2 separate regions of the Homo sapiens genome follow, and region 1 is linked to region 2. The links come from fine-mapping of genetic effects on gene expression. A gene starts in region 2. The other region holds a variant in brackets. All regions are shown on one strand. Distances are between the middles of the regions.

Region 1 (8,235 bases), 29 kb before region 2:
TTGAACTCCTGGGCTCCAGTGATCCTCCCACCTCAGCCTCCCAAAGTGCTGTGATTAAAGGTGTCAGCCATGAAGCCCAGCCTAATTTTTCAATTTGGATCTCTGTTTTTTATGCTGAAAATCTTGTTAGTGAGGACATTAACATAATTATTTGTGCACATATAGTAGTAGAGGATAGTAATTGCACACACACACAATTTCAAAATAACAATACCAATATAATTTTTAAGAGGATTCCTAAGTACTGTTTAAGATTCCTTGGTACTTCTTCTTGTCCTTAGGATATACTGCAGCAGGTATGTAGATGAAAAATACCGTGTCTAAAATAACATGAAAAAATCCTTCAGTGTTCATGCCACCGGCCCTATGTATAATTGTTCAATTGTTCTGCTATATTTTTATGTTGAAACGTAACTCGCGTTTTATGTTTCAGGAATGCTTTTTTCCTTACTTACTTAATTTTACTTTGCAATTACATAAAGCCTGATGTTCCAAAGTCAAAACTACCAAACAGGGCACATCCAGAAAACTCCACCTTCCCACGCCACCCTCAGCACCCTTCCCCTGCCTTCTCTTTTTAGGAAACCTTTTTTTGTTGTTGTTGTTTTTTTTTTTTTTTTTTTTTTTTTTTTTTTTTTTTTTGAGACAGAGACTTGCTCTTTCGCCCAGGCTGGAGTGCAGTGGCGCGATCTCGGCTCACTGCAAGCTCCGCCTCCCGGGTTCATGCCATTCTCCTGCCTCAGCCTCCCTAGTAGCTGGGACTACAGATGCCCGCCACTACGCCCGCCTAATTTTTTGTATTTTTAGTAGAGACGGGGTTTCACTGTGTTAGCCAGGATGGTCTTGATCTCCTGACCTCGTGATCCGCCCCCCTCGGCCTCCCAAAGTGCTGGGATTACAGGCGTGAGCCACCGCGCCTAGCCTAGGAAACCATTTTAATTTATTTTTGGTTTCTTTTTCCCTGTTTGTGCTTCAAAACATAAACAAATACTTAACTATATTCATATTTCTAATTCTTCTTGTGCCATCTGTAAAATTGCTTTTTTCAGGCTTAAAAACATAGCCTACAGGCCAAGCGCAGTGGCTCATGCCTGTAATCCCAGCACTTTGGGAGGCCAAAGCGGGCAGATGATCTGAGGTCAGGAGTTCGAGATCAGCCTGGCCGACATGGCAAAACCCATCTCTACTAAAATTACAAAAATTAGCCAGGGCGTTAGTGGCATGCACCTGTAATCCCAGCTACTCAGGAGGCTGAGACAGAAGAATCACTCGAGCCTGGGAGGCAGAGGTTGCAGTGAGCTGAGATCGTACCACTGCACTCCAGCCTGGGTGACAGAGACTCCATCTCAAAAAAAAGAAACAAATGTAGCCTAGAGATTATTCCCTATGCAGTTCTCTGTTGTGTGAATAGCCCTGGTTTAGTCAACCAATCCCCAACTGATGGACGTTTGTGTTTTTTCCTGTATTTTGCTGTTAAAAAGGTCAGCATGAATGGCTTTTTTGCAAGTTTCTTTCTTTCTTTCTTTCTTTCTTTCTTTCTTTCTTTCTTTCTTTCTTTCTTTCTTTCTTTCTTTCTTTTTTGAGATGGAGTCTTGCTCTGTCGCCAGGCTGGAGTGCAGTGGCACGATCTCAGCTCACTGCAACCTCCGCCTCCTGGGTTCAAGCGATTCTCCTGCCTCAGTCTCCCGAGTAGCTGGGATTACAGATGCACGCCACACCCAGCTAATTTTTTTGTATTTTTAGTAGAGATGGGGTTTCACCATGTTGGCCAGGATGGCCTCGATCTTCTGACCTGATGATCCACCCACCTCGGCCTCCCAAAGTGCTGGGATTACAGGCGTGAGCCACCGCGCCCGGCCACAAGCCTCTCTTAAGGATAGACTTTCAGGGGTGGGAGGGCTGGATCCCTGAGGACAGGCAAGTGTAATCCCATCTCCATCTTCATTTCCTTGTCTGCCTTCCCACAGGAATGTAAGTAAGCTCTTTGGCCGTACCGCCCACTGTTGCGTCTCTCATTCATTATAGACACACATATCTGGTGGAAAGAATGAATCGCACCGTGTCGTTCCCCTGTGGAAACCCTGCAGTCGCTGCCGTCACCTACAGGGTAAAATCCGAAACCCTTTAGTGGCACAGAAGATACCAGTGACGGCCTGACCTGCCCTGGCCACACCCCCGCTTTCCGTGCCAGCATCCTTGAACTTGGTCCTCTGACCACGCCAAATTGCTTCCACTTCCCCAGGTGTCTTCCCATCAGCACATGCCACACTCTCGGGTTACAATACCCCCGCCCCTCTCTGACTTGGTTTCCCAGGTGAACTCTTTCTCAGCCTTCAAAACCCAGGCCAAGCACTTGGATTTTAAACACAGGCGCTCCCTCCACCATGGGGCGATATGGCGATTACTTATTTTAGTGTCCACTCTGCTCACCAGACCCGAGCTGTAGGAGTGTGGGAGCTGTTCTCACCCATCCCTGAACCCCCAGCACCTAGTGTTATGTCAGGCTCAGAGCAAGTGCATAAGAAAGCTTGTTGAGAAAATGAAAGGGAGGCTTCCTATGGTTAAAAGAATGTGGATACAAAAGACTTGGGTTCAAATCCTGGCTTTTCATCTGCCACCTAGGAGATCTTGGGCAAGTCGACGTCTTGGTTTGCTTTCTGTAAACTGGGGATAATGCAAGTTCACTGAAGGTGGCCTTCGGGGCTGAGGGCAGTCACGTGTGGTGGAAGTGCTTAGGATATGACAAATAATGACATGGAAAAACAACAGAGGTAACAAGAGCAGAAGGAATTCAGAAGAGCCAGGGTGAGCTCAATCAGAAGTGAGGAGGAAGCTAAGGCATGGGAAGGAAGGGGCATCGATGAAGGGAATGCATAAGTGACCAAGAAAATTGGTAGCAGCCAGGTGTGGTGGCTCATGCCTATAATTCCAGCACCTTGGGAGACCAAAGGTAGGAAGATCACTTGAGCCCAGGAGGTTGAGGCTGCCATGAAGCTAGGATCACCACTGCACTCCAGCCTAGGCCACAGAGCAAGATCCTGTCTCAAAAAACATAAAAATAAAAATAAAAAATATGGGTCACTCTTCTGGGTACTTCTCAGTGTTATTTAATGATAAAAAAAATATGGGTCACTCTTCTGGGTACTTCTCAGTGTTATTTAATGAAGCCACAGCCCTATGAGCCCTGTGAGGTCATGTTATCATCCCACATAACTAATGGGATGCCTGAATCTGGGTCTGGTAACAAGGACCAGGCACCATTTGACCAACAAGGGGGTTTGCAGTGAGGTCCCCTCTCTTCTTTCCTTCTGTCCTGGGAGCCCTTCTTCTTTCTCGTCTCCTGTTTTTTCTTTGACTCACAGCCACTGCTCCAAACTTCCCCACTGACAAATTCTCAGTGTAAGAATCTCTTCCTAGGCCAGGGGTGGTGGCTCACGCCCGTAATCCCAACACTTTGGGAGGCCGAGGCAGGAGGATCACCTGAGATCAGGAGTTTGAGACCAGCCTGGCCAACATGGCAAAACCCCATCTCTACTAAAAATACAAAAATTAGCTGGGCGTGGTGGTGCACACCTGTAATCCCAACTACTTGGGAGGCTGAGGCAGAATAATTGCTTGAACCCAGAAGGCAGAGGTTGCAGTAAAATTATACCACTGGATTCCAGCCTGAGCAACAAAGCGAGGCTCTGTCTCAAAGGAAAAGAAAAGGCCAGGCGCGGTGGCTCACGCCTGTAATCCCAGCACTTTGGGAGGCCGAGGCGGGCGGATCATAAGGTCAAGAGATCGAGACCATCCTGAGCAACATGGTGAAACCCCGTCTCTACTAAAAATACAAAAAATTAGCTGGGCATGGTGGTGCGCAACTGTAGTCCCAGCTACTCAGGGAGGCTGAGGCAGGAGAATTGCTTGAACCCAAGAGGTGGAGGTTGCAGTGAGCCAAGATTGTGCCACTGCACTCCAGCCTGGCAACAGAGTGAGACTCCATCTCAAAAAAATAAGCAACAACAACAAAAAACACCTCCTTCCTTTTTATTAATCTTAGTCTTGGAAATCCCTCCCACTTTGATCTCTATCCCTTCACCTATGTGCGGTTGTGGGGGAGTAGGGGGAGGAGTGGGGGGAGGAGTCGGGGGCGGGCAGAACAAAGAAGGGATATTTGAAGTAATACAAAGGAATAGGAAAGAAATTTTTAAATGACAAATTTCCAAAGTTATTTTATTACATCTAATGCTAAAGGAAAGGTCAGGCTGGTTTATAATTCAGACAGGTCAACATATATGATTTGATGGGAGAATAGTTAGGGTTCCATTTCCTTTAAGTTTCTATTCCAATCAATTTCCACTGGTGATGTCTAACTCAGATCCCGTCTCATGAACTGAAGCCATCTCACTTCCTGTCCAGGATGATCGTTTCCCCTCTTTTAATCAGAATCCCAACAGCTGCCCCAGGGGGAGCAGCGTGTTCCAGACACACATGGTTTCTTAGACAAGGTAGGGTGCGGCTGCAGCGGACAGGCACTTCTGGCTAGGTCAGGCTTCAAGCTAGTTAATATTGAATCTTCCTCTTAGCTTTCCTCAGTTCAATGCTCTTCTTAAGTAGTCAAGAATTTCCTCAATCTTATGTAGGTAAAACTGGAATTCAGAGCCTAGAGTGTATTCTGTAAAAAGAAGAGTTAGTCGGAAATGGTTAAACCTTGTACAGTCCTCACAAAAACAGAGAAGGGGGACGGCCAGACACCA[T/C]ACCCGCATCGTATTTTTGGGAAGTCTTTTGATTCCTTAGAATGCTCTCCACGTGCCCGGTGCATTGCCTTTAGTCATCTTCACTGTGTTTGAACTCAGGCTTCTAAGCTGCCCAGAGCCAAGGGGTGGCGTGTTGAGGTGGGCTGTACTCTTGGATTTTGGCTTCTCCCACGATGCCCCCCGTGGCCCTTGCCTGAGGGGATATAGGCGTTTTCTAGTAAATAAATCGCAAGAGGTCCGTATTTGGCCATCGTCTTGTTTTTGTAACTGACCTTGGTTTCTCAATTCACTCCTTGCAGGTGGGTTAATCATATCAACCCCGCTGGGATACAGTTCTCTACAGAACAGTGAAATACCATGAGTCACGCAGCTGGGTTGACCACAGCCAATCACTGCTACATAGAAATCTGGGCCTGGCCAGGCGCGATGGCTCATGCCTGTAATCCCAGCACTTTGGGAGGCTGAAGTGGGTGGATTGCTTGAGCTCAGGAGTTCGAGACCAGCCTGGGCCACATGGCCAAAGCCCGTCTCTACAAAAAAATACAAAAATTAGCTGGGTGTGGTGGTACATGCTACTCCCAGCTACTTGGGAGGTCGAGGTAGGAGGACTGCTTGAGCCCTGGAGGTCATGGCTGCAGTGAGCCAAGATTGCGCCATTGCACTCCAGTCTGGGCAACAGAGCAAGACTCTGTCAAAAAAAGAAAGAAAGAGAGGAAGAAAGAGAGAGAGAGAGAGAGAGAGGGAGGGAGGGAAAAGAAAGAAAGAAAGAAAGAAAGAAAGAAAGAAAGAAAGAAAGAAAGAAAGAAAGAAAGAAAGAAAGAAAGAAAGAGAGAGAAAGAAAAATCCAGGCCTGAGGGAAGGTGGGCCAAGATGATGCCCAGTTGTCTGTTCTATAATCAGCAAAGGGAGGCCACAATTCGGGTTCCCTGGGGGTAAGGAAGCCCTCTGATGCTGAACTGGGAGTTGAAGTAATCGATCCTAAACAGCGATTCTTAGTGGACCTACAGACAAATCACAGCATGGAATACCTCAGTCTGGGGCCGGTACCTAGAACATCTGACCCCCTCGTGAGGAGATGCTAGAGTGACGCTGTAGTGGAAAAAGCATTTCAGATGTGGCAAATAGAACGATACGCAGTCTGTTAGTGACTATTGCAAGAATAGCGTAAAATTGTTTTAGGGAAAGCAGGGGAAATATGGCAACATTTAGACCTAGGAGACAGGCCGGGCACAGTGACTCACACCTGTAATCCCAGCAATTTGGGAGGCCGGGCAGGCGGATCACCTGAGGTCAGGAGTTCAAGACCAGCCTAACCAACATGGTGAAATCCCATCTCTACTAAAAATACAAAAATTAGCCTGGCGTGGGGGCGCGTGCCTGTAATCCCAGCTACTTGGGAGGCTGAGGCAGGAGAATTGCTTGAATCTGGGAGGCGGAGGTTGCAGTGAGCCCATGAGATTGCACCACTGCACTCCAGCCTGGGCGACAGAGTGAGAGACTCCAAAAGAATTAGGAGACAGACCCATGAGTCTAAGCTCCCTTTGGTCAGCCTGCTTGCAATTGGACCTGTTAAAGACGACATCACTTTCGGACAAAGGGATTCTTGCTGTTAATGTTGTATATGGTATAATATGGGGAAATGATTACTGTAACTGATGTCAGTTTTTTTCTTCTGTTAGTATTGTATTGGAGGAGTGAATTGTATTTCAGGAAACAATATAGAAAACACCTATATCCTCTGTTAATTCAGTAAGTGAACCAGGAAGGAAAGGTGGGGAGAAAATCACAAATAGGCCTTATTCGGGTTGGGGAGGTGGAAATTTAATTTTTTTGTTTGTTTGTTTGTTTTGGTTTTTTGAAACAGAGTCTCTCTCTGTCGCCCAGGCTGGAGTGCAGTGGCGCAATCTCGGCTCACTGCAAGCTCCGCCTCCCGGGTTCATGCCCAGCTACTCAGCCTCCCCAGTCTCAGCCTCCCCAGTAGCTGGGACTACAGGCGCCCGCCACCTCGCCTGGCTAATTTTTTGTATATTTAGTAGAGGCGGGGTTTCACCATGTTAGCCAAGATGGTCTCGATCTCCTGACATCGTGATCTGCCCGCCTCAGCCTCCCAAAGTGCTGGGATTACAGGCGTGAGCCGCCACACCCGGAGGAAATTTAAGTTTTAAAAGGTACATATAAAGATGGGATAAGGCCGAACGAGGTGGCTCGTGCTTATAATCCCAGCACTTTGGGAGGCTGAGGGGGGAGGATTGCTTGTGGCCAGGAGTTTGAGACCAGTCTGAGCAACATAGTAAGAGTCCATCTCTACAAAAACTACAAAAAAAATTAGCTGGGTGTGGTGGTGTGTGCCTGCAGTCTCCGCTACTGGGGAGGCTGAGGTGGGAGGATCACTTGAGCCTGGATGTTTGAGGCTGCAGTGAGCCGTGATTGTGCCACTGAGCTCCAGCCTGGGCAACAGACTGAGACCTTGTCTCAAAAAAGAAAAAAAAAGTGGGATAATATTGAGTACACAATATTGATAGGATACTGATTCTACTGTATTGGAAAATATAAAGGTATCAGGAATGGTTAACAGAATGGGCTGTAAAGACAATGGATTCACCACAACTTTACAGAAAGCAGACAAAATAAAGATGAGGAGGCTGTGAAATATTTACACTCTTGCCAACACAGAAACGAGGTGAGCCAAGGACACGGTTGGAGCCTGATCCAAGGAACTGGAGGATGCAGCGGAGGCTGGCCTGCCCGCACCTGCTTCCAGCACGCTGGGGTCTGGGGCCTGCGCCCCAGGCAGATGCAGGGAACAATATGTGGTCTAGTTAACTCCACTTTGAGAGAATGTATAGGAGGCGTTGGGGGTGGGTTCATAACACAGACTATGATCAAGATGCGCAGGAAATAATCTGGGTGGGGTTAATAAGGTTAACTTGGCCAGGCACGGTGGCTCCCGCCTGTAATCCCAGCACTTTGGGAGGCCGAGGTGGGCAGATCACCTGAGGTCAGGAGTTTGGGACCAGCCTGGCCAATATGGCAAAGCCCCATTTCAGTTAAAAAAAAAAAATTAGCCGGGCGTGGTGGTAGGTGCCTGTAGTCCCAGCTACTGGGGAGGTTGAGGCAGGAGAATTGCTTGAACCCGGGAAGCAGAGGTTGTAGTGAGACGAGATTGCACCACTGCACTCCAGCCTGGGTGACAGAGTGAGACTCTGTCTCAAAAAAAAAAAAAAAAAAGGTTAACTTGAACCTACACTCTTGTGAGAGCTTCCGGATGTTGTGGTCTTCTTGCTTCTCCTGCTCTCTCTAGCCAAGACTAGGTAGGTAATAAATCACGTAGCTGTCGCTTCTGATTGTCTCGTGTGTTCTACTCACTGGCATCCCTGCCTGGACTGGGAAAAAGTCATCACCCTCTGCCCAAGCCCTGTGCAGCTTGGCCCACCTGAGCCTCTTGCTACTGAAATGACTCTCCTTCCCTTATATCACCAGAAGAGATGGGTCCACC
Region 2 (8,395 bases):
CCTCCCACCTCAGCCTCCCGAGTAGCTGGGACTACAGGCACTCACCACCACTCCTGGCTAATGTTTTGATTTTTTGTAGAGATGAAGTCTCACCAAGTTGCCCAGGTTGGTCTCAAACTCTGGCATCAAGTGATCCTCCCACCTCAGCCTCCTAAAGTACTGGGTTTACAGGCATGAGCCACCATGCCTGGCCAAGTCCAGTGACTGTCCTATCGCTGTGTGGCAGGCAGGGATGTATCTCAACCCAAGCAGGAGTGAGAGAGTGCAGAACCTAAGGAGGATGTGGCCAAGAAACCTGACAACTGGGGGTGTGAGCCCATCTTGGCCATTAGACAGTGTGTGGCCTTGGGTGAGTCCCTCGACCTCCTGAGGCCTCAGACTTCCTGCCTAAAAAATGCCCCCTCCTGGGGTGGTCATGAGGCTCAGAGGAGTCGAGCCAACTTGGAAAATCAGGAGGATATTCTGCACAAGTAAAGCACAGATTTCACAGTTTCCAGGCCGGGCATGGTGGCTCGTGCCTGTAATCCCAGCACTTTGGGGAGGCTAAGGTGGGCAGATAACTTGAGGTCAGGAGTTCCAGACCAGCCTGGCCAACATGGTGAAACCTCGTCTCTACTAAAAATACAAAAAAAATTAGCTGGGCATGGTGGTGCATGCCTGTAATCCCAGCTACTCAGGAGGCTGAGGCAGGAGAATCGCTTGAACCCAGGAGGTGGAGGTTGCAGTGAGCTGAGATCCTGCCACTGCACTCCAGCCTGGGCAACAGAGTGAGACTCTGTCTCAAAAAAATAAACAAAATTTACAGTTTCTCATATCGGATTCCTGAAGTGGGGCATCCCCACGGCCCTGCTTTTTCTGTCTGACCTTCACCTTCTTTCTTGTAGGGATCAGAAAGCCAGAGCTTTCTTCTTAAAACTCTGAGAAACCCTGGTCCTACCTGTCAGGTGCTTTGAGCTGAATAGACTCAATATAGGAAATGTGGAAAAGCTGACCCAAGGTGATGGACAGAAAGCCCCCGTGGGAAGGGTGGCTTCAGCAGCACGGCCTGTCCTGCCTGTCACCTGCTGGGTGGGTTGGGTGAGCTCGGGTAAGAGGATAACGCTGCAGGAAGGGACCAGCAGGGAGTTGAGTCGAAAGATGGATGCTGCCCTCTCTGGAAGAGCCACTAGGTTTCGGGGCCAGTCAGCCCTCATGTTCGACCCTCATGTTCGAGGCCTCCAGCTCTGAGGCCGTGCTCTGTGTCTCTGTGCAAGCCATTCCTGGCAGGGACACGTGTAACCTGCCTTCCCCTGCAGGCTGCCCATGGACTGGAGCCCCTCACCACCCCTTCCTCTTACCTGTGTGGCCATTGTTGACCATGGGGAACTCCCCTGCCTGGGTCTCATAGCCTGTCATATTGAGCCCCTTCAAGGAGGGGTTGTACCGCACCTTCGTCCTCTGTAGGTTGATAGGCGACTGTCTCTGGCCCCCACAGGCGGGGTAGTGCTGTGGCCAGTGCGCTTCGTCCAGTGCCCCTTCTAAGACAGGAAAGACACAGTTCAAGGGGCTGCCTGGCTGCGCCCACTCTGGAGGAACCTCACCAGGCCAGAGGCCAGAGGCCAGGGCCTGCTGGGCGGGGACCCACGGAGGCACCTTCCAGAAAGCAGAAGCAGGTCCCCCAGAAGGAGGCCAAAAAGACAACGAGGTCAACTCCAAGGACTCTGGTGTTTGGGGGGCTTTGGTGCTAACCTCTAACTTTCCTGTGGCAACTGCTGGCCCTGGGAGCAAGACAGTGTTTTGAAATCAATGGAAGTCTTTTTTTTTTTTTTTTGAGACAGGGTCTCGCTGTGTCACCCAGGTTGGAGTGCAGTGGTGCAATCTTGGCTCACTGCAACCTCTGCCTCCCAGATTCAAGAGATTATCCGGCATCAGCCTCCGGAGTAGCTGGGATTACAGGCATGCACCACCACGCCTGGCTAATTTTTGTATTTTTAGTAGAGACGGGGTTTCACCATGTTGGCCAGGCTGATCTCTAACTCCTGACCTCAGGTGATCCACCCACCTTGGCCTCCCAAAGTGCTGGGATTACAGGCGTGAGCCACCGTGCCCGGCCTGAGAGTGTTTTATACGTAAATTTTTGCTCTCGTTTGACTTATTTCCAGCTGGTGAATGCATGGAGGGATCCTTGGCTTTGCTCTTCCTGTGCTGCTCCTGGGGCCTCTTCCTCATTTCCTCCCAAGGGCCCAGTTGTCCTTCCATGCCCCCAACAGGAACACAGCCCCCACCTCCCCATGCTGCAGGAACCCCCCACCACTATTTTCTTGCTCCAGCCCCTTTTATGGATTCCCGTATGGTAAAGACCATCTAGGTGTCTACACTTATGGATTCAGGGAAACTAAGGAAGCATCAGGTTCCAGGACAACCTAGAATGAGTACTTTTTTAAAATTCATAAGGAGAAAGTTTATCTTTTCAGAGAGGGTTGATAATCGTAGGGGACAGAGTAACATAGGTGAGTGATTATCATGGTGACTTGGCTCCCATACAGCTGTGGAGCTTGGAGTCAGCCATGTGACATGGAGAATCCCACCTCTGTTCCCTGTTCGGGGGTAGCTGTGTGGTGAGTACACAGCTTGTTTTAAGACAGGTGTTTGTGGCTGGGCACGGTGGCTCATGCCTGTAATCCCAACACTTTGGGAGGCCGAGGCGGGTGGATCACCTAAGGTTGGGAGCTCGAGACCCACCCTGACAAACCTGGAGAAACTCCATCTCTACTAAAAATAAAAAACAATCAGCCGGGCATGGTGGCACATGCCGTTAATCCCAGCTACTTGAGAGGCTAAGGCAGGAGAATCACTTGAACCCAGGAGGCAGAGGTTGCGGTGAGCCGAGATCGCGCCACTGCACTCCAGCCTGGGCAACGAGAGTGAAACTCTCAAAAAAAAAAAAAAAGGTGTCTGTACTAGGGCCCTCACCGCTTTTTGGTTTGTAATCAAGGCAATTGGCCTGGAGCACAACGCCTTCTCAGAGCAAGATGCTTTGGCCCAGGGCACTGTCAATACTGGAACATCTCTCAGGTTTCCCTGGAAGGCATTTACAAAAGCTACTCTCAAGTTCTCCTGGAGCCCCTAGTAGTTTCCCAGGAAGCCCACTGTCTCAGAGGCTGGGCAGAGCCTGGGAAGGACAAGGACTTCATTGTCTGAATTCTCTCTTCCTTCACCTCTGAACCACCTGCCTGCACTGCTTGGCCAAGTGAAGCAGAATGCCCCAGGCTTCCGAGGCACTGCCATGTGTAAGATCACTGTCCTCAGGAACAGAGCGGTTGTTCAGAGCTGGCTGGACTTTCTGAACCTCCCAGGATGTCCCTAATTCCGTTGCCCTTGACTTAACAGATCATCCCGTTCACCCTGAAGGAATGCTTCCGGAGCAGCTGAACTGGGGCAGACTCTGCAGGAAGCAGATGTTTGTCTCACTTCCTGCATCAGCCAGCGGCCACCAGCCTCCTCATGGGCCCCAATCCATGGTCCCGTATGGAAAGAAGGGGGATGCGGGAAGAAGCTCTCCTCACTGCCCCTGGAAAGGGCTGTTTAGTGTCCACAAAGTCCACAGACACGGCCTTCTAGCTTTGGCTCACATGTGGACCAGAACCCATGTTGAATGCCAGGATTTTACATTTCACATTTTAAAAGTCTGGTTTGGGGCCTGGCGCGGTGGCTCACGCCTGTAATCCCAGCACTTTGGGAGGCTAAGGTGGGCGGATCACTTGAGGTCAGAAGTTTGAGAACAGCCTGGCCAACGTGGTAAAACCCCATCTCCACTAAAAATACAAAAGTTAGCCAGGCATGGTGATGAGTGCCTGTAATCCCAGCTACTTGGGAGGCTAAGACATGAGAATCGCTTGAAACCAGGAGGCAGAGGTTGCAGTAAGCCGAGATGGCACCACTGAACTCCAGCCTGGGCAACAGAGCAAGACTCTGTCTCAAAAAAAAAAAAAAAACAAAAAAAAAAACACCTCTCATTTTGGCAGCCCACAGATCAAAGGGAACTGGGTCCTTATGTCAAGATGTTCTGGGTAAACTGCCTACCATGAAATTTCCAAGAAAGAAGGTCTCGCAAACCCCACAGCACCTTCCGTGAGGTTACCGAGAGTCTTTTCTAAGAACTTTGTTTTCCACTTACACGGACCAACAAAGCAAATGGTTTTACAAATAGAAGCAGTGAGTGTGCTTTTGAACCAGCCAACACTGTGGATGGAAAAAAATTTAAAGCAAAAAGCCTGTAAGTAAATCAGGAGTTTGTGAAGGGGAAAGCTATTTCCTTCTTTTCCTTATTTGAAGTTTAAGTTCAGCTTATTCTCCATACCTTCTGAGACACTGAAAAGGTAACATCTGAAGCCACAATGAGCAGACCCCCAACATATGGCAAGTGGGCTGCCTGGCCATCCTGTGAAATGCCCTAAAGGAGGACTCTTGGCCGGGCGCAATGGCTCATGCCTGTAATCCCAGCACTTTGGGAGATGGGCAGATCACCTAAGGTCAGGAGTTCGAGACCAGCCTGGACAACATGGTGAAACCCTGTCTCTACTAAAAATACAAAAATTAGCCAGGCATGGTGGCAGGCACCTGTAATCCCAGGTACTCGGGAGGCTAAGGCAGCAGAATCACTTGAACCCGGGAGGCGGAGGTTGCAGTGAGCCAACATCACACTACTGTACTCAAGCCTGGGCAACAGAGCAAGACTTTGTCTAAAAAAAAAAAAAAGAAGAAGAAGAAGGGCACTTGTCCTGTTGTAAGGGTGTGAGGGTAACTGGGGGAGCATGCAGAAGCTAGGGGCTCACCTGAGTAGGTCCAGTCAGACACATGCTGGGCCTGGCCACCCAGCAGGAACAGGGACAGCAGAAGCACCAGGGCCCTCATGGTGCTGCACATCTGTAATGAAGACTGATTCCGGCGAAGCTCTTCTTTTAAAGGCTCAGAAACTGTAAATAACAATTTACAATTGATCTGCCCAGCTGGCTAAACCACCCTTTGCTGCACCCACTAAAACAATAACACCCTCCCCATAACAGCACTTCTGGCTCCGTGCATTGCGCCAGGCAGCCCCAGCACCTGCCTGATCTCCTCCCACGTCAATTTCATATCCGGTCAGTCCATGGGTTTGGTTGTTCAGTGTCTTAGGAACACCTGAAGAGCCACACAGTGCAGCCATTGTGGACAGGTGACCGCGGAAATGGGAAAAGGCCCAAGGCAGGGAGAAGCAGGATGAAAGACTTTCCTGGACGTCGGACTTCCCATGCTCTTTCTCCTGACATTAGAGATCTGGGGACTGCTGATGGGATCACCACTGCCTGCAAACCCTGCCCATCTCAGTCATGGACACAAGCCACCGCTGCAGACATGTGGCTGCCCTCAGCCAGGCATCCAGGGAGGTGGCCTGGCCTCCATGTTTGGACATTTCACGGTCCTCTCCTTAAACCAGTGGTTGATCCTGGGTCCCAGCTCATGAGCCACATTCCAATGTGTGCCTTTATGCCATTCAAGCTGGTGTGGGCGTCTGCATTTCTACATGGATTTGTTCTGACACCTGCAGGGCTCTTGGGCACACCTAAGCCAATCAGCCAATTGCCCTCGCAGGATCCATGGATTACCTAATCCTGTGTATTCACTTGGCTAGACAGTCCCTGAAATTAGCTGAAGGAGAAACTTTTGAGTTTATGCCTGCTGACAGGCCAGCATTTCCCATGCCCTTCCACAAGGTCAAACACAAAGGGTAGCCGGAGCTCCTGCGGGGGGGCTACCATGCTGCCGGACACAAAGGGCCACCCCTGCCTTGTTATGGGGAGCTGAACCCCCTCCTGGCCTAGCTTAACTCATTGTCCACTTGGTCCTGGAATGGCAAACGTCAGCAGGCCTTCACAACAAGGATGTTAGCGGTGAACGTAGGCCTCCCGAATACTTCTAAGACTCCCCACTGTCATTTAATAGGGAACATCAGCTGCTGCAAAGAACTTGCTGGAAACTTCCATTTCTAAAGCTCAAGAGCTGAAAGAATCTCAGAGAGAGAGCAAAGCATGTTCAAGGACAAGGATTCTGAAACTAGACAGGATCTGTGCCACCTGCTAACTGTGTGACCATGGGCAACTCAGCGCTCTGTGCCTCAGCTTTCCTTCCTTTTCTTTTTTCTCTTTCTTTCTTCCTTTCTCTCTTTCTTTTCTTTCTCTCTTTCTCTCTTTCTTTCTTTTTTGAGACAGGGTCTCTCTCTGTCACCAGGCTGGAGTGCAATGATACGATTTCAGCTCACTTCTCTTGGACTCAAGCAATCCTCCTGCCTCAGCTTCCCAAGTAGCTGGGACCACAGTCGCATGCCACTACGCCCTGCTAATTTTTGTACTTTTTGTAGATACAGGTTTTCACCATGTTGCTTAGGCTGGCCTCAAACTCCTGGACTCAAGCGATTCTCCCGCCTCGTGCTCCCAAAGTGCTGGGATTACAGGCGTGAGCCGCCGCACCTGGCCGCCTCCTTTCTTTAAAAGGAGTTAGTGATAGCACCTCCTTTGTGGGGATTCGGCAATAAATGTGCCTGCAGTAGTTGGAGCAGTGCCTGGTGTGTAGCAAATGGCATTAGCATCTATTCAGACCCCTCATTTTATAGGAAAAGGAAGTGATTTATCATTGCCACCCAGCTGGTTAGTGAGGGAACTGGAGGAAAAATGCTTCAATCTCCAGCTTATGGACCATTTCTTTGCAAAAATGAGAAACCTACTCTTCTGTCCTTGCTAAACCAGTGACGCCCACCTGCTGACTCCCAGCCCTGCGGAAAGGGCCACCTTGTAAATCACAAGGCCCCACCTCTGCTGAGGAGACCAAGACCCTTTACAAGCCCAGGCAGGACCCCTGACATCAAACTGGCAGGAAAACACAAACTCAGTCATCTGAATTTTTTCTTGGGAATCTGAATTGGGAGACCCAGAAAGAATCAGGGAGCTGCAGGCAGGCAGAGACTAAAATGTCAGGCTGTCACGGAAGCCTGGGAGGACTGGATGAGCCCAGGCGAGGGGAACTGGAGCAGGAAGGAGCTCAGAGAAAGCCTGGGCCAAGGGGGAGGGGAAGACTGCCCAAAGAGGGGCCCTGGAGAGTCAGAGAGAGGAGTGCTTGCGGGAGAGCACAGTGAAATGCAGAGGGCCCACCACTCCTGGCAGCTCCCAGCCCCACGGGTCTCACTGCCCTGCGGTGAGCATTTGGGGCTTCCCAGGAGAGCTCTGGGGCGTTCCTTGCCTCACACAGCTCCTTAAAATACAGTGCACATACTGCGTCTGTGAAGCTGTGATGCCAGCAGCCCCTCTGCAGAACTGCTGTGCAGCGTATCCACCCATCACATCTGAAGCTTTGCCCTGGTTTTGCCTTTCGCTCAGGCAAGAGCCTGGACTGGCCAGCAACCTGTTGACCTGGCTGGTGTTGAGAATTGGTGTGAAAGTGAGTAATTAAGGCAATACGGGGGTCAGATCAGATGATGGCCTCTTGGAGAAGCAAGGCCATCTGCCAACGAGGGCATATTTCTAGAGAGAGGGTCCCCTCCCTCCGCTGTACAGCACACTGCCAAGGACATACTGGACCCAGAATCAGGTGTGGTCAGTAGTGTTGCCTATTTTCTGACTCCTTGTCTACTTCAAACCTGAAATTTTCCGTCACCTTTGAACATGAGTCTTCTTCTTGGATTTGGGAGGCACATTGTTTGTTTGGGTTTGCTTTTGTTGGTGGTGGTGGCAGTGGGTTTTTGTTGTTGTTGTTTTTGGTTTTTGGTTTCTTTTTTGAGACAGGGTCTCACTCTGTTGCCCAGGCTGGAGTGCAGTGGTGCAATCATGGCTCACTGCAGCCTCCCAGTGCTCAGGTGATCCTCCCGCCTCAGCACCCCCTTCCGCCTCATCCCCTCCAAGTAGCTGGGACAACAGGTGCGTGCCCTATGTGTGCTCTGTTTTTGTTGCTTTTATTTTTAGTGTGTCTCTCTATGCTATGAGCTTCCTTCTGCCTTCATCCAACCATATCCTTGGCTGATCAAGGTTGTTTTTTTAATTCTAAACTCCTATTTTTCTAGGGTCTATGGTTGGATTGGCTGTCGGAGATGAGTTGACAAGTTTATCATTATTACAACATCAGGTCAAAGGGAGAAAGGAGCCTTTGTTCTTCCTTGCTTCTACCACTGCCCCCCCGACAAGGCCCACTGAGGCAAGGAAAAAGAAGGAGGCAGGGAGGCATGGCCAGCCCAGGTGGGCAAGAAGGCACCATCAGCCCAGGTGAGCAGGGACAGATCATGAACCAAATGACTAGGGAGGCACCGTTAGCCCAGGCTGCACAGGACCAGCATAAAAGAATGAGTCTGGCAGGCCAGGCACGGTGGCTCACACCTGTAATCCCAGCACTT

Evidence for each region. PIP is the estimated chance that this variant, and not a neighbour inherited with it, causes the effect.
Region 1: its variant is fine-mapped to the expression of CA6 in whole blood (TOPMed, PIP above 0.99). The same link has a PIP of 0.9 or more in sun-exposed skin.

The regions. Positions count from the first base shown.
Region 1 is chr1:8,971,044-8,979,278 of GRCh38, reverse strand. It overlaps CA6 (carbonic anhydrase 6), which reads right to left. Exons shown (of 8, transcript NM_001215.4): 8 at 4,187-4,657. The coding sequence ends at 4,575. Among named protein-coding and RNA genes, the nearest start is that of CA6, 29 kb to the right of the region's middle. The variant T/C (reference allele first, on the strand shown) is at 4,740.
Region 2 is chr1:8,942,385-8,950,779 of GRCh38, reverse strand. It overlaps CA6 (carbonic anhydrase 6), which reads right to left and starts at 4,912. Exons shown (of 8, transcript NM_001215.4): 1 at 4,815-4,912; 2 at 1,338-1,517. The coding sequence starts at 4,893.